Regions from separate parts of the Homo sapiens genome. Here all the other regions are linked to region 1. Evidence: fine-mapped expression QTL. A gene starts in region 1. Each other region holds a variant in brackets. All regions are shown on one strand. Distances are between the middles of the regions.

Region 1 (5,414 bases):
TCTACTCATCTGAAAAAGGGCTAATATCCAGAATCTACAATGAATTCAAACAAATTTACAAGAAAAAAACAACCCCATCAAAAAGTGGGCGAAGGACATGAACAGACACTTCTCAAAAGAAGACATTTATGCAGCCAAAAAACACATGAAAAAATGCTCACCATCACTGGCCATCAGAGAAGTGCAAATCAAAACCACAATGAGATATCATCTCACACCAGTTAGAATGGCAATCATTAAAAAGTCAGGACACAACAGGTGCTGGAGAGGATGTGGAGAAATAGGAACACTTTTACACTGTTGGTGGGACTGTAAACTAGTTCAACCATTGTGGAAGTCAGTGTGGCGATTCCTCAGGGATCTAGAACTAGAAATACCATTTGACCCAGCCATCCCATTACTGGGTATATACCCAAAGGACTATAAATCATGCTGCTATAAAGACACATGCACACATATGTTCATTGCAGCATTATTCACAATAGCAAAGACTTGGAACCAAGCCAAATGTCCAACAATGATAGACTGGATTAAGAAAATGTGGCACATATACACCATGGAATACTATGCAGCCATAAAAAATGATGAGTTCATGTCCTTTGTAGGGACATGGATGAAATTGGAAATCCATTCTCAGTAAACTATCGCAAGAACAAAAAACCAAACACTGCATATTCTCACTCATAGGTGGGAATTGAACAATGAGAACACATGGACACAGGAAGGGGAACATCACACTCTGGGGACTGTTGTGGGGTGGGGGGAAGGGGGAGGGATGGCATTGGGAGATATACCTAATGCTAGATGATGGGTTAGTGGGTGCAGCGCACCAGCATGGCACATATATACATATGTAACTAACCTGCACATTGTGCACATGTACCCTAAAACTTAAGGTATAATAATAATAATTAATAAATAAATAAATCTAAGACCTGAGACCATAAAAAAAAATGTCTTCCAAATTATATCCTGTAACTAATTTAAGTGGAGGTGGGGGGAAGACGCACAAGTGCAGCAGGCCTCTTAATTTCCTTAAAACAGATTGAAACAATCTCTGAGGGGAAAAAAGAAGAAATAGAAGCTCATAATACTGAAACCAGCAGTTGATATTTCACAGTAGTTGGCAAATCTTCCTTCAGACTTGGGTCCACAAGATTGCCTGATTAAGCAAAGCCCTTCTGGAGTCAGATCTGGTGTAAACCTGAATCTGCCTGTCACTAGTTGTACAATCTTGGTTGGACGCGTCCCTTCACTTCTCTGAGCCTGACTTTCGTCATCTGTAAAATGGGAATGCTATGATCTCATAGGGTGGTTGTGACAAGAAAAGGAAGCATTGTTTTTAAGTCCTTACGTGCTTTTAATCCAGCCCTTTAAAAAGGCACTTAAATGTACCTTTTATTGTTTGGTTGGCTTGTTTTCCAGGAAATTAGTTCTTAAATATCATTATCTATAATTAACATAAACTCTAATCTAATATTCAGACAGACGGATGTCGATGCCATGGGTGGTTCTCCTTTAAAACCAAAAGCCTGGCGACCCCGCCCCAGCTCCCCTCAATTTTACCCCAGACCCACCTTAGGTTCCTCCACTACCGTTCGGCTGACTTCCCTCCCTTCACACTTAACACCACAGGTTGCCTTCCCCAGCACCTGCTAATTTTTCTTTCCTCTTCCCTTCCTGGCCTCCGCCTCGGCCCGCCACCTCCCTGGCTCTTTGAGTCCCTTCGTGGACGTCCCCGCCGCGCCCCAGGGGATGTGCGTGTAGTGGGGGAGAGTGGGTCATAGGGTCTGGTCTCACCATCTCTATTTTCAAAGCCCCTAGGGGACTGGAGAGGGGGTGACATTGCCCCCCAGAACGCCGAGCGCGCGAGGCGCGTACTCACCAGCCGCCGCGGTCGCTTCTTTCCAATGCGCGGAACTCGGCGCTCGCGGCACCTGGCACTCGTGGGAAGTTGCGGGGAAGGGGGACCTGGAGGAAGAGGGGCGATGCCGAGCTCTTCCTGAGGCGCCTGCGCAGTGGCAGGCGCCGCGCCGCGGGGCACAGCCCCAACGTCCCTATCTGCGCCGCTCGGGGCGCTCCGAGTGTGCGCAGCTGCCAGGCGAGCGTCTAAGGCGCCAGCTCAGGGCTGGCTGGGACCGGGCAGCAGAGTCTGAAACACGTCCTTGGATTGGATGCTAGAACCAGCGTTGAATGTAACTTTCTTTCCGATTGGTTAGACAGGTGCTTGGAGGGGTTGTATCGGACCTAAGAGTAGAGGTTGATTCCACTCTCCCACCACGCACTTTTCGTATCATCCTAGATCTGGATGCCCTTCATGGAACCTAAAAACCAGCGAGTCCCGGAAAGGCCTCAGGCAATTGCCAAGCCGATGGCCTTCTGCCACTTAGTTAATGTGCACCTGGCAGCTTAGGTGGCCGCGGAGAAAGCAACTTTGGCTGCACCAAGGTCCGGCACAAGTCTGGAGAAGCTTCAGCCAGTTCCAGTGAGTTGGGATAAATGAAACGTGGATCTACCATAGACGTCTGTCCGTCTTACTGGATAAGCGAGCACCTTTACCGGGGAAGTTAGGTAATAGTTTACAAGTAAGGTTAAAAGCAGCACAGTGCCTGCGGCAGGGAACCAGTAATGAGTTACAGCTGAGAAATGGGTGCTTACTTTGACAGACGCGTATGTGGGATTGTGCTCCTGCTTTTAATTGGAAGGTTATTTAATAGAATAATGTAACTAAACTTTCCAACATAAAGAGCAGTTACCAAACAGAAGTAGAATTATTCGCTAACAGTTGGGTTGTCCAGGCACACTTGGCAGTGAGAGGATAGCATCTTTTTTCTTTTTATCTGTAGTGCCAAACAGAACTTGGTATAGAAGTACTTGCTAAATCACTATTGAATTTAATTGTCCCGCTTGTTAAAATGCAGGCTCCAGAAGGTATTTTCTTTCTTGTTCACTACTGTATCTCCAGCTCAAATAAAAAGTACAAATAAATTAAGAATATTAATCACATGTGATATCCTCAAGTGTTAAGTATTTAATAGCTGTAAATCCAGTACCTGGATTAGTAAACTGCAGTACTGGACCTTAGATAACAAATTCTGACGTTGGTCCCCTTGGTCTGAACCTTACAGTATAGCTATTACCAACAATCTGGAAGCAGCCATGGAGATGATTTGGCAATAGATGTATTCCGTTGATTATTAGTTTGTGCCTTGATAAATTAATTCCAGTTTTAAGTCTCAGGTTGGCCTGTGCATTGGTGAATATGGGCATCTTAGATCCATGGGCTTTCAGAGCTGGAGGGGATGGTAGTGGGTCTGTAGCTGAATCCCTAGAACCTGCAGACCCTAGAACCTGGTTTGAATACTCACTCTGTCACTCACCAGCAGAGCAATCATGGGCCAGTGTCTCAACCTATTTGAGCTTTCATTTCCTCATCTGCAAAACGCGTCTTGTTACAATACCAACCTCTTACTATCAAATGAATGAGGAAAGCGAGTAGAGTATTCAGCACAGTATCTGACACATGTTGTTTTGGGGATTATTATCATTATGACCAAAAAAGTACCCCAATTTGAACAATAGTCAGGGTAAGGCCAAGTTTTGGGGGAATTTAGGTAATGTCCAATGACATAACATTTAAGATTAGCAGAACTTAAATTTTGTGGCATTTGGGGGTATTGTGCATATCCTGTTTGTTCATTCAGTAGGTGCATATGTATGCTTAAAGGGTGGACAAAACTGAATGCCATCTAGGTCAGATGTGTGGTGAAGATAGCAGCTGGATGGGCATCAGGAGAGGACTCTCTTTATCCACTGCTACTGCCTGTGTGGCTGGGTTAAATTAGGGAGTCTCATGCCACCTGGGCTCTTGCTCTGTAAGATAAAGTGGTCAGGAACAGAGGGACAAAATGACACATAAGGACCTTTGGCCCTAAACTTTTGTTATCCTCTATATATTTACCATTTCAACCACAACCAAAATCCTGTTATAGTAAGGATATTTATCGTCTTGTGGAACAAGAAGTCCAGAGGTAAGGCAGACTTCAGGACTGGTTGAGTTAGCAACTCAACGATTTCATAATGTACTCAGTTCTTTGCAGCTTTACACTTGGCTTTTAACAGAGTAGACTTCTGGTTCCTTTAGTGGTAAATATAACTACCAGCAGCAACAGGAACCATGTAATTCATTTTTCACTTCCACTGGGTGATAGAAATGACGTCTAGATTTCTTCTGTCTCTTAGAAGTCTTCAGCAACTGTCTCCTTTAATCACTTTGGACAGAATTGTGTCACATATCCAAATCTAAGCCAGCAAAGGATATGGTTACCTGTAGACCAATGCAGTCCACATCTTAAACTGAGGTCTCACCCAAACTTTACTTTTTTTCTCAATGGAAATGAGTTGGAATGGGTGCTGGGAAGCCGGCCACAAAGTTCACTATAGTTTCATTGTAGAACTTTAATGATAATAAAAGAAAACATAATAGTAACATAAATTTCTTATTTACAATGTGATTTTTAGGCATAAGTGTTGTTTTATTTAGGTAGGCAAAATAATATTCATTTATAATGTTCTTTCAGCTCAGCTTTTGCAAAGGGAATTTTATATAAATTTTGGAAATATAGAGAGCCTTTAAACCCATTTTATGTTAGAGATTGAAATGAATTAGAGGCAATAGTCTAAACTTATTATTTACAAATGAATATACCCCACAGAGAAATGACTGAGCAAACATACAGTTAGATAGAAGAAATATATTCTAATGTTTGATAGGAGAGTAGGGTGACTATAGTTAAATGTATTTTATATTTCAAAATAGCTAGAAGACAGGACTTGAAATGTTCCCATCACATAGAAATGATAAATACTCGAGGTAATGGATACCCTAAATACCCTGACTGGATTGTTACACGTTCAATGCATGTAACAAAATATCACATCTGCCCTATAAATGTATAGAAATATTATTTATCAATACACAAAAACTAAGTACAACTAGAGCATTTGCCTCTATGGGGCAATGTCAGATTTGGAAGCAGCATGTCAAAGGCAGTTTCTTTTTCTCCCATGAACTACGCTCAAGACTGAACATTTATTCATTAACACAAAATATTTTAAAAATCTTATCCTGTTTTCAAAATTTAAGACATAGCTCTCTATACAATTATTTCTCTTTTATACTCCTAATTGTGATGTATAACTCATTGCTGGCCAGGAGAAGGTCAGAAGTTAGAAGTTACAGGAAGAAGGTTTCAGAGCAAAAGCCACACGCTTCCCAAAGAAAAACAATTCCTGTCCACTGCTCAGTTCTAATTAAACAACAACACAACTGAAACTAAATAATTGAATGTCAAGGAGAGTATTTAAGGTTCACTTTTTAATATAAATTAGATGTTTAAGTAATACAGATTTTA
Region 2 (5,414 bases), 54 kb before region 1:
TTATTATTTATTGCACTAGGTAATTTTCTGATGTCATTCATGTACTCATATTTATTGAGTTCCTACAATATGCCAAGCACTGAGACGTTTCTTAGGGTGAAATAAAGTGGTTACCAATAGAGTTACCAAATCCAGCACCTTATTTCAAACAGATAATAAACTCGTTTAAATGTCTTTTTAAAAAATCTCTTTTATAGTAAATATGTGCTCTTGTTACTTTATAACTCAACAGCTTTCTTTGGTTCCTTTTTGTCTCCAGAACAAGATACAAATTAGTCAGCCTGAGTGGCTATTAGAGCATTCCACAATTGTCTTTTTAATCTCTCCTCTCACTGCTTCTCCACCTGGACTTGATACAGGATGAACTGGGCTATTCATTATTATCCAAACATAAGTTGTTCTTTCCAAAATTCATTCTGTCAAACATGTCAACCTCTCATCCTGGAAACATTTCAGATATTTTTACTAAGAATAAAAAGAGTTGGTAGAAAAGCTGTTGGGAAGGCATAGCTTCCACCTGAGGCAAACCATTCATATATACACCTTATTTAACATAGTGACAGTTTCATCCTCGCATATTAAACAACAGTTATCTCAGAACATTGAACAAGGCTAATGTGCCAAGCTTGGTGCTATGAATGAAGCATAGTCCTTGTCCTCAGAAGATACCAAAGTTTAAAACCTAACACGGTAATTTAACTCTGGATCTCTCCATCCTCCTGTCCTCCACATTCCCTCATTCACTCATCCATTCATTTAGTAAACTTCACTGGGAAGCTGTGGGGCATGCACAGTTCATCAGGCTCAGTCTCAGTTCTTTGGCATATTAACCAACAATTACAGAACAAGTGCAAGGATGGAAGAGTGCAGAGCACTCTGGGAGTGTGGAGGAGTGGCACATAATCAGGCAGAGCTGAGGGAGGAAGGGGCTTCCTGGAGGAAGGGACTCCTGAGTTTGGTCCTTAAAACTTTGAAGGAAATAGTCAGGCAAAGCATCACAAGGAAGTATCCAGACTAAATTTCTCTCCTATGTTACTTCATCTATAGCTGCGAATATGATTGCTTTTCTGGAAGCACCATGCTTGCTCAGGAATGAGGGGAAATGTCATAGAAGGAATTAAGGCTATATTTCCTGATTTTCTTTTCACTGGACTACATGGCTTAACAACAGAGAATAATGTATCTTGCCCTATTGTATTTTTAGTCTTTTGCTGTAAGTAGTAAGTCCAAGTAAAATATGTAGCAATGGGACTATAGGATTCCTAAATTCATCCCCAGGATATTGCTAAATTGAGAACTAGTCATTTCAAGCAACAAGAAAACACTGTAAATAGACAGATAAAATGCAAGCTAATAAATTTCTTTAAAATTTTTCTTTGTGCTATTAACATCATATGATGTATTGTATATGATTGGAGACAGGCTATAGTTAAAAGTGTGGACTTTACAAAAAAGAAATTCCTAGGTTCAAACCACAGCTCTGACAGCTCTTAGCTATGTAAACTAGGCAAGTTATAATGGCTGAATAGTAGCCATCATATAAAAATACCAAATGCTCTTAATCATTTCTTTTTTTGAGACACTTAGGTTGTTTCTTAATGGGGAGTATTAGTAATAAGACAATAATCAATATTGTGATACTAAAATCTTTGTTCCCCTCTCTGACAGAATAAATTTTTTTAAATGGAATTTCTAGGTTAGAATTTATATCTATTACTAGTTTAATATCTCTAGGGCAGTTTCTTCATACATAAAATGAGATGGATGATGGTACCCACTTCGCTGGATCATTGTAAGAAGTAGATAAATTAATAGGAGGAAAACTGCTTAAGCAAGTGTTTGAAACAGCTTTTCTGTCCATTTTAAATCAATGAGTAGTAGCTTCCTCCAGGGGGATTTTGCCAAGTTCCACAGCAAGTCATGTTTTTCAGGTCCTGGAATACTGCCAGTGTGGAGGAATACGAATGGAATGCAGTCAGAGGATCACATCCAGGTCATTTTCGGGATTCCACATGGCTCCTTGGTGAATTTATACTGTAGTTATACTTTTCTTTATAACAGATATTTGCGAAACCTAAGAGCTAAAGCAGTAGGGAAAATACAACAGCAAATCCACTTACCCCACATCATGTCCCATCAAACACTCACAAGCACTCATCTTTGCCGGTTTCTTTACTTAGTCCTTATCAGATAGTACCCATGGGGTTTCTTCTATCTTATAGAGCCAGTGACTGTACTGAATAACTCACCTCTTTTCATGTGTGAGCATTACTTATGCCCCAATTTCATTTTTATCTTCCTCTAAGAATAGATTCTTTATCTATCTTTCTAACTCTGATGTTATAAGCACTGAAATAATAAATCTAATTTCTCTGGAAAATTATGAACAAATGAATAGGAGACATGAGAATCCTGAAATAAAGTTGGTCCTGCTTATTTTGGGGGATATTTCCTCATAGTTGTATTGGGGAAGATAATTCATCATTTGAGTGCAAACGGTGCTCCCAATAGGGTCATATAGCCATTATCTAAAATGCCACAGGATTTATCTAGCATCACTTGTAAAAACAGAAATCTATATG[T/G]CCAGTTCTAGGGTACAAAACACATCACACTGGATGTTCTATCCAATGATGGTAAGATCCCATAGGGGAAATTAAATGCCATGAAATGGCCTTAATTATGGGAGTTAAGAAAATTGTTTTTCACAAACTACACAGCAGAATAAAAAACATGACATGAGGGGGAGAGAATAGCATCTAAAAGGCATAGGATGAGGTCAGAGTTCCGAATGCACTTTATGGGTATGGTGGTTAATTTTATGTGTCAACTTGACTGGGCTAAGGGATGCCCAGGTAGCTGCTGAAACATTCTTTCTGGGTGTGTCTGTGAGAGTATCTCCAGAAGAGATTAGCATTTTGAATTGTTAGAGTAAGAAAAGAAGATCTGCCCTCACCAATGAGGGCAGGCATCTCCAATCCGATGAGGGCTCAAATAGAACATAAGACAGAGAAATGCCAATTTTCCTCTTTTCAGTCTTTATGAACTGGGACATTCATCTCTTTCTGCCCTTGGACATTGAAGTTCCTGGTTCTCATGCTTTTGTGCCTTTGGATTCCAGGACTTACACCAGTCCCCCATCACACTGCCCACCCCGGTTCAATTACAACAGAATTGCCTTGTGACCAAGTCACTGGGGGTGGAGGAGTATAAAGTCAGTGTTTGTGTTTATGCCATCCTTGCCATATGTGTCTCTTACACAGAGAATTGAGGTGATTATGGAAATATGCCCCCGAAATAACAAGAAAGATCACAGGAAGCTACACAGGCAAGAGTAGAAAATTCAGGAATACTATAAATACCAGGATTCTTCTATACATGTACAGATGGTCCTTGAGTTACTTTTCTTCGATTTTATGATGTTACAGATGTGAAACACATTCAGTATAAACCATACTTCAAGTACCCATACAAACACTCTGTTTTTCACTTTCAGTACAGTATTCAACAAATTGCATGAGATATTCATTATCTTATTACAAAACAGTATTTGAGAGATGATTTTGCCCAACTAATCACTTATATCATAGGCTAATATAAATGTTCTGAGCACATTTAAAGTAGAGTAGGCTAGATGTATTAAATCCATTTTCCTCTTATGATATTTTCAACTTATAACGGGTTTATCAGTATGTAACCCCACTTTAAGTCAAAAAGCATCAGTATAGATTTATATCCTGCTTTTCTCTTCAAATATTTTATCATAGGAATTCCCACATATTAAACAATCTTTGAATATGTGGTTTATAATGGCTGAATAGTAGCCATCATATAAAAATACCAAATAGTATTAGTATTAAGACTATGATAAATATTGTCATACCAAAATCTTTTTGTGCATCTCTGACAGGATAAATTTTTCAAAAATGGAATCGCTAGGTTAGAATGTATTTTATTTAAATTATTTAATTCTAACAACAAACACTATTTCAAAAACTAGATACTGGAAAAAACACAACTGACTCTAGATAAGTCTAAAATTTATCTGGCAGAAGCAGACGTGTTAGACAGAAATAGATTAGCCAAAAAAGTTTACAATGCCATGGGGTAGTAGTTAATATGATTTGCAGAGGAAAAGAAGAGTGTAGGCCATTCTGGTGAGTCAATTAATTGTAAATAGATTTAAAAAGCTTCTGCTGCTTTCAGGTCTATAACTCTATCAAATCATTTAGGCTTTCTAAACCTCAATTTGCTCATTTTGAAAACTGGAGTCATTTCCCATGTTCATGCACCAGAATACTTAATATTGTAAGCTTGAATGTTCTCCCTAAATTGGTATGTAGATCTGCTGTCATCCCAATTACATGCCAGACCAGCATTTTTATAGAAAAATAATAGATAGAAAAAGGATCATAGAAAAGCTGATTTTAACATTTATATGAAAAGGCAAAGGACCTAAAATAGTCAAAACAATCTTGAGAAAGAGCAATGTTGGAGAACTCACACTACCTCACCTCAAGACTTATTACAAAGCTTTGGTAATCAAGACAATGTAGTATTGATAAGAAGACAGACAAACAGGTCAATGAGCTAGAATTGAGAGGCCAGAAATAGATCCATGCTTATAAAGCAAATTGTTTATGATAAAGGAACCAAAGCAATTTAAAAGCAAATAAAATACCTTTTAAAAATTGTACTGGAACAATTGGCTATTAAAAAATTTTTTCTTTAACTTAGACTCCTATTTGCACTTACACTCTATTTCACACCACACACAAGAACTAATTTTAAATGGCGGAAAGATCTGTGGATAGGAGTTTGAGAATCTTGAAAGATAGTCTATAGCAATAAGCATCTGCCCAAGATAGTCTATAGGAATAAGCATCTGCCTTCAGGCATTAGACCCTCACTTATCCTTAACTGGATCAGGATAACTTAGCTTAGGCTAGGACCTGGCCTTCAGCCCTTCCCCACTACTTATTAAAACATTTAAAGAGAAATCTAAATTAAAAATCCAAAATAATAATGCAATTTAAAACTACCTCAAAAAATCCAAAAATCTTTAAGATATACCATTTGAAACAAAAGTGTTAAAAGAGATAGAACAAGAATTTTATGTAAACATGATAAATATACTTAAAGAGATGTAACAAGCTATTAGTAATATGAAGAAGAATAAAAAATCATTAAAAATGAAAATATATGAGGTATAATAGCTGAAAAACTACACCAAAGGTGGGATAAAGAAAGGATAGAAACAGCTAAAGAATAAATTTGTGAATTAGAAAATCAGACAAAGAGGCAATCTCTCGGCAATCAGAAGAATAAAGAGATAGAAGATATACAAGTAAGCATATTCCTCTCTGTTCCCATTATGTAGTATCAACCCTCTCCCCTCAAGAAAAGCAGGTTACTTA
Region 3 (5,414 bases), 20 kb before region 1:
TGCAGACAGCTGCCTTCTCATTGTACTTTTACATGGCCCCATGGGCATCAACTCCCTATATTTCTTGAAAAGTGCATGCCCAAGTGCCAAGTATGATCTTAGAGGCACTCACCACTTTAGTGTTCAGGCCAGTCATGTCTGGGCCAAGAAGAAAGAGGCTAAGCATTGTCAGGTTGCATCTGTGGGAAGCTAGCCAAAGCCAAAATAAAACTGGAGTAAGAGTATATTGACTGCGTTTGAGGGTATACAAGAGAAGTCTAATACACCCACAGATGTATGGATTCTTGATTTTAACAAAGGTGATTAATTCTGTTTATCTATTTTTTAATCCTTGGGTCAATACTATACTCTCTTATTATATTTTTAGAATTATTCCTGACACCTGATAGAGTATGTCCTACCATTTTATTTTTTTCAAAATTGTCTTGGCTCTTCGCATTTCTACACAAATTTTACAGTCAGCTTCTGCAGTTCCATAAAAAAACAAATAAAACCCTGCTGAAATTACTTGGATGCAATTATCAGTTTGGGAAGAATTGCCATCTTTATAATATTTAACCTTCCAACCTACAAACATGATATAGCCCTCTATTTATTTTGGTCTCCCTTAACTCCTTTATAATTTTCTGTGCAAAGATTCTGCATGTATTTTGTTAGACTTATTCCCAAATATTCCATGCTTATTGATAGCAATGTAAATAATATGAGTTTAAAATTTTCCTTTTCTAATTGTTTTCTGCTGAGATATAGGAATACACTTGATTTTTGTATATTGACCTGATATCTAGCCATTTTTTAAACTCAGAGTTTATCTGTAGATTGTTGGATTTCTTATGTATACTATCATGCATTTGTGAATATGAGTTTTATTTTCCAATACTTACTTCTTTTGCTTTCCTTATTGCACTTGCTAGGACCTGCAGTACAATGTTAAATATAAGTGGTGAGAGTGGACATCCTTGCCCTGTTCCTGATCCCAGGAGAGGAACATTTGCTATTTCATCATTCAGTATATTAGCTTTGGCTTTGTTTTTGTTTTTTTTTAATAGATGGCATTCATCAGCTGGTGGAAGTTTCCTTCTATTCCAAATTTAATCAGTTTGTTCAACTAATAAATAGGTGTTGAATTTTGCCAAATACTTTTCCACATTCATTGACTTGATAATGTGTTCCTTTTTTTCTATTAGTATACAGCATAACATTGATTGATTTTCAATGATCAAAACAATTCTGTGCCCTGTAGTAAACTCCACTTATTCATGTGCATTATCCTTTTGAATTACCACTGAATTCAATTAGATAATATTTAGTTAAGTATTTTTGTTCATAAGAATACTGGTCTTTTAATATATTTTTTCACGTTTTTGTACCAGTGTTATACTGGCCTTATAAAAAGAATATGTTGGCTGGGCGAGGTGGCTCACACCTGTAATCCCAGCACTTTGGCAGGCCGAGGTGGGCAGATCACGACGTCAGGAGATGGAGACCATCCTGGCCAACATGGTGAAACCCCGTCTCCACTAAAAATACAAAAATTAGCTGGGCGTGGTGGCACGTGCCTGTAGTTCCAGCTACTCAGGAGGCTGAAGCAGGAGAATTGCTTGAAACGGGAAGGCGGAGGTAGCAGTGAGCCGAGATCGCACCAATGCACTCTAGCCTGGTGACAGAGAGAGACTCTGTCAAATAAATAAATAAATAAATAAATAAATAAATAAATAAACAAACAAACAAATAAATAAAACGTGTTCCTTCGTCTTCTATTTTCCATAAGAATTTATGTAAAACTGGTATCATTTCTTCATCAAATGTGTGATGAACTAATCAGTGAAACACCTGGACTTGAAGTTTTCTTTATAAGGATTTTTTTATAAATTAATGTCTGATAGATATAAAGCTATTCACATTTTTTATTTGTTTGGTAAGTTGCATTTTTCGGTGAATTTATCCATTATTATGTAAATTGTCAAATCCATTGGCATAATATTCTGTATTATCTTTTTGACATATGTAGGATCTGCAGTGATGGCGCTTCTGTTATTACTGATATTGCCAGTTTCTGCTATCTCCCTTTTTTCTT[A/TA]GGTCATCTTACCAATTTTACTAGTATGTTTTTAAAAAATAAATTTTCACTTTATTATTTTTTCTCTTCACGATTTCATTAATTTGGATCTTATTTTTATTATATCCTTCCTCCCACTGACTTTGGATTATTTCCTCCTTTTACTGTTTTCCTAAAGCGAAGGCTGTAATCATTGATTCTGAACCCTTCAGCCTCTCTTAAGATAGGCATTCAAAGCTGCAAATTTTCCTCTAATGCTTTAGTTGCATACTATAGATTTTAGTGCTACATATTTATGATCATTCATTTCCAAATATTTTATTTGCCTTATTTTTATTTTTCTCATAAGTTATTTAGAAGTGTATTGTATTGTTTAATTTCCAAATATTTAAGGATTTTCTGAATTGTATTGTTATTGACCCTCGTTCCATTGTGGTCAGAAAACATACTTTGTAAAATTGCAGTTCTTTGAGATTATTTACTGAGACTTGTTTTCTGGTCCTGTGTATGGCCAAACTTGGTAATTCTTCAATGTATACTTATAAAAATAATATATTTTGCAGTTTGGAGCTGTAATCTCCTCTAAATCTCATTTAAGTCAAGGTGGTTAATAAAATCACTCAAGTCTTCTGTATCTTTATTGTCTTTTTTTCTTGGTGTGGTTGGTGTATCAACGACTTAGAGAGGAGTGCTAAATTCTTCAATTATGTTTACGAATTCTCTTTAGTTCCATCAGTTTTTGATTAATGTGTTTTTAAGCTGTTTTTAGGTATGAACACTTTTAGAATTGTCATGCTTTCCTTACATATTGGTCCTTGTACATTAATGAAATCTCTCTGTTCCTGAAAATTATTGTCTTGAAGACTACTTTTTCTGATATCAATATGTATATATTTATTATGGTTAGTTTCTGATATGGTTTTGCTGTGTCTGCACCCAAATCTCATCTTGAATTGTAGTTCCCACAATTCCCACATGTTGTGGAAGGGATCTGGTGGGAGGTAATTGAATCATGGGGGCAGTTACCTCCATGCTGTTCTCGTGATAGTGAGTTCTCATCAGATCTGATGGTTTTATAAGGGTTTTTCGCTGCTTTGCTCTGCACTTCTCCTTACTGCCACCATGTGAAGAGGACATATTTGCTTCCCCTTCCGCCATGATTGTAAGTTTCCTGAGGCCTCCTCAGCCTTGTGGAACTGTGAGTCAATTAAACCTCTTTCTTGTATAAATTACCCAGTCCCAGGTATGTCTTTATTAGCAGAGTGATAATGGACTAATACAGTTTCCATGGCATGTTATTTTCTATCCTTTTTTAAAATTCAATTTGTGTCTTTGTATTTAAAGTGATTCTCTTGTAGACTACATGTAGTTGGATATTGCTTTTTCATCTACTTTGATAATCTCTGCCTTTTCACTGGAATGTTCAGTCTATTTACATCTAATTACAGATGTGGTTTAATTTTCATTTTTGAAAAATGTTTCTTTCATTCAAGATTGGTCCATAGTTTTTTTGTGTGCTATTTTTTCAAGTTCAGTATCAGTTTTATTCACCTTAAAAATAATATACTTCATTTTCTAAAATGTTAGTTTTTTGAGGCAAATATAAACTGATATCCAAGCCTGACAGAGTCACTAAAAAAAAAGGATTATTGTCTTTGAGGCCTGATACTTTTTTATACACTATAACTGCCTCAACCTTTTCCTAAATACAGAAACTGGTATGTTTTTGTTTTCTCTTTCTTTACTGGAGTCAGTTTTATCCAATAATTTTTTTCCTAGGAAATTATTCATTTATATTTTCAAATTTGTGCCAAATAGTGCAGATGCATGATTTTAATAGATATATTTACATCTGTGCCTTCTCTCCTTCAATCACCCGCTCCTAGTCTCTTCTGATTAGGTTAGCTTCTCAGCCTTTCAGCTGCCTCTTCCACAATTCATAGATGCCATTAGGGACTCATGTTTATTGGGTTTTTTTTTTCCTTCTAAATCCTAGCCTCTTCATTCTTCACTTTCTGGAAATTCCTCAATGCATAAGCACAAATCTTTTATTTGTCCAGATTTTCTAGTCCTCAGTAAGAGCACTGGTTTGAATTACACAGTCTACCATTACTGGATACAGAACCCAACATGTCTTTTTAAGATTACAAAAAAAGGGGGAGTGAGGGAGAATCTTCACAGAAATTTCGAGTGTAAAAAACATATTCACTCTCCTCAGTGGATATTTCAAACATTTTGTAAATCAATAGTACTCTGTCTAACCTATAGAAGCCCCTTTATAAAATGGTTATTTATATAGTGAAATTTTCTAGATTTGTTTTGGGGTTAATTTCTATTGCTCCTTTCCACCACTCGCCTACGAAAGTGAGATTGAGCATGGTTGATATGAATGTAATGCTGATTAAATTAATAGCAATTTGTATCTTTAACAGAAGAGGAAGGTCTAGACTGGAGACACATGTCTGTAAATCATCATCATGGAGCTGTCAGTGGAAGAGCTCACCAGGTTGTGTATTGACGGTGGAAATGAGATTTCAGAGGTCAAAAGGATAAAAAAAAGATACGTGGACACAGAAAGCCTGCATAGCAGTTTGGCTTACTCTTTAGGTATAGACTCTGCATTTACCTCCCAGGTAATTTTGACCATGGGACAGGAGTCAGAGGATCTAGTCATTTCAACATATACACATAGTTATTACATAAGAATATAGAACTATACACACATGTGCCTGTACATATATATATTAGTATATACATACATATATGTATAGTATACACACACACATACATATATATATACACTTACACATATACTTACATACACACATACACATATATGTTGTGATCAGCATGTCTGTTACAGGACTCCAGAGCCCAGATGGATCATTTAGATTCTCACATATTCTTTCAAGCAATGGTTGTGAATGTGTGTGTGAGTACACTAGTGGAGGATGGGGTGAGAAGGATGTAATAATAACCAAACATAGGCACTAAGGAGGCTGGGAGTTGGGGGAAGAGGCAAAATTAGCATCTGAACCTCAGGAAGCACAAGGTCTGGAAAATGATTCTAGATACAAGGCTCTCAGCAGCAAGAGTTAACCCATGAGTACACATAGGTAATTTGTTGGTATAAATAAAGTTTTACCACTTTTGAAATAATTCTCTTTCAGAGTAAAAAATGTTCCATTTATTCTTTTGTTTTCCTACAATTCTTAGCAGAGTTCTTTTAATACAAAAATAGGAAATGAATTAATCACTGCTCTAATAGGAGAATTCTTGAATCTATATTCAATTGGACAAGTCATTAAATGCCTATGGCTATGTACAAAGTTTAAACATTATAATGCTTCCCCTACCA
Region 4 (5,414 bases), 39 kb before region 1:
AAGCCCAGGCCTCGGTGGGCGGGATGACTGGGAATTGGGAACATAACCTACGCCGCGACCATTCTGGGTGGCTAGGATGGAATCCTGGTGGAGAAGATGGACACCCCCGCCCTTGACGTCTACCCGAGCTACACAAACCTACTCCTTCTGCACTTTCCCTCTTCCGTTTAATCGGTGCCCCGTCCTTCCTGCTCTCCAAGTCTGTTTGTGGAGGAAGGGTTGGAGGGGAGAAAGAACTGGAAAGTACTCAATGAAATGTGGAGCCAGATCCAGGGATTCCACTGTTTTGTGCAGCATTTTGTGCACGAAAAAAAAAAAAATTCTGATTGTTTTCATTCCCCACCCCCCACCTCTGTTTATTGCTCTGTGTCATGGATGTGATGTTGAGTCTTCTTGCCAAACATTCCTAAGCTTTAGACAACACTTAATCTTTGCTTACTTTTGTTGGTCCCAAGAAAGCAGTTTTCTCCTGCTTACACATGTGCCGAATTAATTTGCTAAGATAGATGAAAATGAGGTGTTCCATGTAGTTTATTTCCTCTGCTTTTAGCCTTAAATTACATTTGGTTGATACTAGCCTTCCTTGTTTTAAAAAGGTGGGAGAGAAAATTAGGGGGAGAAAGGACAGAGAGAGCAACTACCATCCATAGCCAGATAGGTGAGTAAATATATTTGCAGTAACCTATTTGCTATTCCTTGCTGCAACTGTGTTTAATGTTCCTTCCAGAATCAGAGAGAGTATTGCCATCCAAGAAATCGTTTTTAAATATGACATTTGAGCTATCATCTTGAGACCAATACCTAAAACAATTTCAGTTTAAGAAATGTCTAGGTATGGTGAAAACACAGTTTAAAACCAGCAAAACAGAATTTATTGCCCTCAGCGAATACCCACAATGTACATATACCTTGTATTTCTGAAAGCAAAGCAAGCATGCCAAGTAGTTTTTATTTACCTGTACCTATAATACAGCAAGGTGAAACAGGATATATTTTTGAAGTTTAAAAATGTCTTCAGGCCGGCTGCGGTGGCTCATGCCTGTAATCCCAGCACTTTGGGGAGCCGAGAAGGGTGAATCACCTGAGGTCAGCAGTTTTGAGACCAGGCTGGCCAACATGGCGAAACCCTGTCTCTACTGAAAATACAAAAATTAGCTGGGTGTGGTGGCGGGCGCCTGTAGTCCCAGCTACTTGGGAGACTGAGGCAGGAGAATTGCTTGAACACGGAAGGCGGAAGTTGCAGTAAGCTGAGATCGTGCCACCGCACACCAGCTTGGGCAACAGAGTGAGACTCCCTCTCAAAAAAAAAAAAAAAAGAAGTCTTCAGCTTAGGAAGATATCAAAAGGCAGTTTCAAGAGATTTATTTGTACAAGTGTGGTTTGATCTAAGTTTTGGTGGGTTTATAAATACCTTCATGCAGGAATGGGTAGAAAAATGAGAGAACAAAAGATCCCTGCTGGATGTGCACGCCTGATGAAAACTGACAAAATTTACATATCTATTGTTTATCCATACAGCGTCTTATTAGCTTTCTTCAATAGAATGAAAGTATTTTAGAAATATACACAGATTAGGGGAAAAGACCAGCAACCTTGATTCACAGAGCTTTAAACCAGGGAAGTGCTTTTACTACACCTATCAATGATAAGATTAAATTTTGACAAATTTTAACATTAGGAAAGTCAACAACAAATTTCAGAATTATATTTCTGTTAATATTTAGTTTAGAATCTAATTATTTAGTTCAACGAATGCTGTGATTTGATTATTAATAAATGAATGCAGATTACTTTTCAATAAATATATCTGGATGTCACAAATGTTATTTCACTTCAAGAAACCAAATTCATCTATTTTCCTCTCTCTTTAGTAATACATCTTTTGTCTGTGATTAACCAAACATAGGGGTTGAAAATAGAAGTGTGCATATACATATATATATAATATATATGTATATGCACCATTATTCGATTTGCTAATGATACTTCATTGTTGCTAGGTTGCCATAGTTGCTCTAGCCATAATGTTAAGGATGTTCACAGGTATTTGACTATAAAAAAGTTTCTGACCAGAAGTCAAAAGTCTGGATCAACCTGAAAATGTTTCTAAAAGTTTTATGTAAATGATGTCATATTTTAAAATGCTGTTGAAGAGCTCACTTAAATAATTCCTTTGAGGGATATTTAGATAAATTCTCAGAAGTGAAAAAGTTGTTTAAATGCAGCTAAACTTATTAGCTTTATTATTCATTTAGCCCCAGGTCTCTTATCTAATACGGAGTTCTGTGACATAATTCTTCCAGGCTGTGATTTATGAATATAACTAGGATTGCTAAGCACTGTTACTCTGAGTTTGGGGTAAAGTATACAAAACAAAATTATTGCCTTTAATTTCTATATGTTTATTCTACAGATTATCTTACACTGAACTGATCAAGTACTTTGAAAATGACTTCGAAATTTCTCTTGGTGTCCTTCATACTTGCTGCACTGAGTCTTTCAACCACCTTTTCTCTCCAACCAGACCAGCAAAAGGTTCTACTAGTTTCTTTTGATGGATTCCGTTGGGATTACTTATATAAAGTTCCAACGCCCCATTTTCATTATATTATGAAATATGGTGTTCACGTGAAGCAAGTTACTAATGTTTTTATTACAAAAACCTACCCTAACCATTATACTTTGGTAACTGGCCTCTTTGCAGAGAATCATGGGATTGTTGCAAATGATATGTTTGATCCTATTCGGAACAAATCTTTCTCCTTGGATCACATGAATATTTATGATTCCAAGTTTTGGGAAGAAGCGACACCAATATGGATCACAAACCAGAGGGCAGGACATACTAGTGGTGCAGCCATGTGGCCCGGAACAGATGTAAAAATACATAAGCGCTTTCCTACTCATTACATGCCTTACAATGAGTCAGTTTCATTTGAAGATAGAGTTGCCAAAATTATTGAATGGTTTACGTCAAAAGAGCCCATAAATCTTGGTCTTCTCTATTGGGAAGACCCTGATGACATGGGCCACCATTTGGGACCTGACAGTCCGCTCATGGGGCCTGTCATTTCAGATATTGACAAGAAGTTAGGATATCTCATACAAATGCTGAAAAAGGCAAAGTTGTGGAACACTCTGAACCTAATCATCACAAGTGATCA[T/C]GGAATGACGCAGTGCTCTGAGGAAAGGTTAATAGAACTTGACCAGTACCTGGATAAAGACCACTATACCCTGATTGATCAATCTCCAGTAGCAGCCATCTTGCCAAAAGAAGGTAAGGCTGACTGAATGAATGGTGAGCTGAGACTAGATGTGCATTTGCCCAGTGTGATCAAATGAACAGGGATTTCTGTTGCTGCGCCTTTAAAGTAGACTTTGCCTGTGTCATGGTAATATTCTGGGATTTAATCCTCAGACTCTGAAAAGACAAAATCTCTTTTTTCAAAGCCTAATTTTTTTTTCCTTTTTCCTAGAATACTGAAATTGATGTGCTCTATGTATGTATGGCAGTAGGTTTTAACCATTTTGGATCCATAGAATATTATGAAAGCTATAGCCTCCCTTCTCAGAAAAATTGAGATGGAAAGATACATACAAAACTTGAATGCATGTACAGTTATTTCATAGAAGCCCCAAAGCCTTTTATAGGTTCCTAATTTGGACCTGCTTAACAAGGAAGCTGTGGAAGATAAGAAGGAGAAAGAGCTTTGGTCAATCTGAGGTTTATTTTCCTTATAAATGTGGAAAGTAATAACAATACCTTAAACTTTTTACAAACCTCTCCTGGAATCCTTATACCAAACCTGTCACCTCAGTATTGTCTCCATTTTAAAGAGAAGTAAATGACAGGTAAGTGACCTCAAAAGGTTTAACATCCTGAGGTCACAAAATAAGTGACAACATGACTCAGACATGCTCTTTGACATATTTTATCACTTTGCAGGGTTGGTCTTAGGTATCAAATGAGAGAACAGATTTTGAAAAGCTATAATATTTCACAAATGAGAATTCCATCCCTCAGAGGGGAATTAGAATCATATGAAACAGCGAATGTTAAAATATGTGTGTGTTTTACACACACAGTTTTCAGCAAACAGCACTTTTTTTCTGGTTTAAGAAAATTAGCTAGGAGTGGTTGCTCACGCCTATAATCTCAGCACTTTGGGAGGCTGAGGCAGCAGGGTCACTTGAGGCCAGGAGTTTGAGGCCAGCCTGGGCAACATAGCAAGACTCTGTTGCTAAAAAAAAAAAAAAAAAAAATAGCCTGGTGTGGTGACACATGCCTGTGTCCCAGGCTGAGGTGGAAGGGTTGCTTGAGCCCAGGAGTTCTAGGTTACAGTGAGCTATGATCATATCACTGCACTCCTCCTTGGGCGACAGGGAGACACAGTCGAAAGAAAAAAAAGAAAGAAAAAGAGAGACTGAGGGGGAAAGAGAGAGAGAGAGGGAGGGAAGAGAAGGGGGTGAAAGAGAGAGAGAGGAGGGAGGGAAGGAGGAAGGGAAGAGGGAAGGGAAGAGGAAATGGAAGGGGAGAAAATTACATTAACCCTTCGATTTCCTTTATAAAATTGGAATGATGTCCTCTTGTTGCGGTGCAGAAGATAAGGATGCAACCTCAGCAATGGATTTGAAAAACAGGAGGATGAAAGACAGTGCCTGGGTAACCGCATTTGTAGTTATAGGGAGTACTTTGGCAACACCTCCAGTGTTTTCAGATGTTTCCATTTTACAAACTGCTTTCCACCTCCAGCCTCTTTTCCCAGCCCTCACCCACCCCTCACCATGTTTTCTTGTCTGGAGATTCTTCGTGTCTGCACTCACAACTACCAGAACCTAGCCATTTTTATTTGGGTATTGCAGTACCCTAGACATTTTACATAGTGTCACTAATTAATATGTGTGTGTATTGAAGTCTTTAGAGGTTTCTGGTTCTATAAAATGCCCTTCCTTAATTCTATAAGGTGAACTTACAACAGAAGATTATTTCCTAGTTTCCCCTCCCAAAATTGTTTTCCCCAAGGGGAAAAAGAATTTTTTCTTATGTTCAGCTCTCTGGTTTTTCACCTCCGTAGCAAGTCTGTTGCCCATGGCTGATGGTAGCTATGAGTATTTTGTTCTGAGTGCCTCTCCTCCCTTCTCTTTAGGTAAATTTGATGAAGTCTATGAAGCACTAACTCACGCTCATCCTAATCTTACTGTTTACAAAAAAGAAGACGTTCCAGAAAGGTGGCATTACAAATACAACAGTCGAATTCAACCAATCATAGCAGTGGCTGATGAAGGGTGGCACATTTTACAGAATAAGTCAGATGACTTTCTGTGTGAGTATGTTACAGTATTTCTTTCCATTCTGCATTACTTTTTGCTAAAATACAACAGTTTAAATACATAATACAGCAGTTTATTGATTG

Which allele goes with the higher level. Alleles are on the strand shown, and positions count from the first base shown. SD is a standard deviation of normalised expression in the study named. Not every link is listed here.
With allele A in place of TA in region 3, the expression in macrophages of the gene that starts at base 2,086 in region 1 is higher (large effect, 0.91 SD a copy in Nedelec 2016).

The links. PIP is the estimated chance that this variant, and not a neighbour inherited with it, causes the effect.
Region 2: its variant is the best candidate, but not a certain one, in a credible set for the expression of ENPP4 in tibial artery (GTEx, PIP 0.66).
Region 3: its variant is the best candidate, but not a certain one, in a credible set for the expression of ENPP4 in macrophages (Nedelec 2016, PIP 0.58).
Region 4: its variant is the best candidate, but not a certain one, in a credible set for the expression of ENPP4 in spleen (GTEx, PIP 0.80).

What each region holds. Positions count from the first base shown.
Region 1 is chr6:46,126,661-46,132,074 of GRCh38, reverse strand. ENPP4 (ectonucleotide pyrophosphatase/phosphodiesterase 4) reads right to left here and starts at 2,086. Exons shown (of 4, transcript NM_014936.5): 1 at 1,886-2,086. It also overlaps a transcript of CLIC5 not described here.
Region 2 is chr6:46,180,818-46,186,231 of GRCh38, reverse strand. No RefSeq gene overlaps it. Among named protein-coding and RNA genes, the nearest start is that of ENPP5, 13 kb to the right of the region's middle. The variant T/G (reference allele first, on the strand shown) is at 2,583.
Region 3 is chr6:46,146,979-46,152,392 of GRCh38, reverse strand. No RefSeq gene overlaps it. Among named protein-coding and RNA genes, the nearest start is that of ENPP4, 20 kb to the right of the region's middle. The variant A/TA (reference allele first, on the strand shown) is at 2,078.
Region 4 is chr6:46,165,297-46,170,710 of GRCh38, reverse strand. ENPP5 (ectonucleotide pyrophosphatase/phosphodiesterase family member 5) reads left to right here. Exons shown (of 5, transcript NM_001290072.2): 2 at 597-658; 3 at 2,414-3,277; 4 at 5,148-5,324. The coding sequence starts at 2,449. Among named protein-coding and RNA genes, the nearest start is that of ENPP5, 3.0 kb to the left of the region's middle. The variant T/C (reference allele first, on the strand shown) is at 3,165.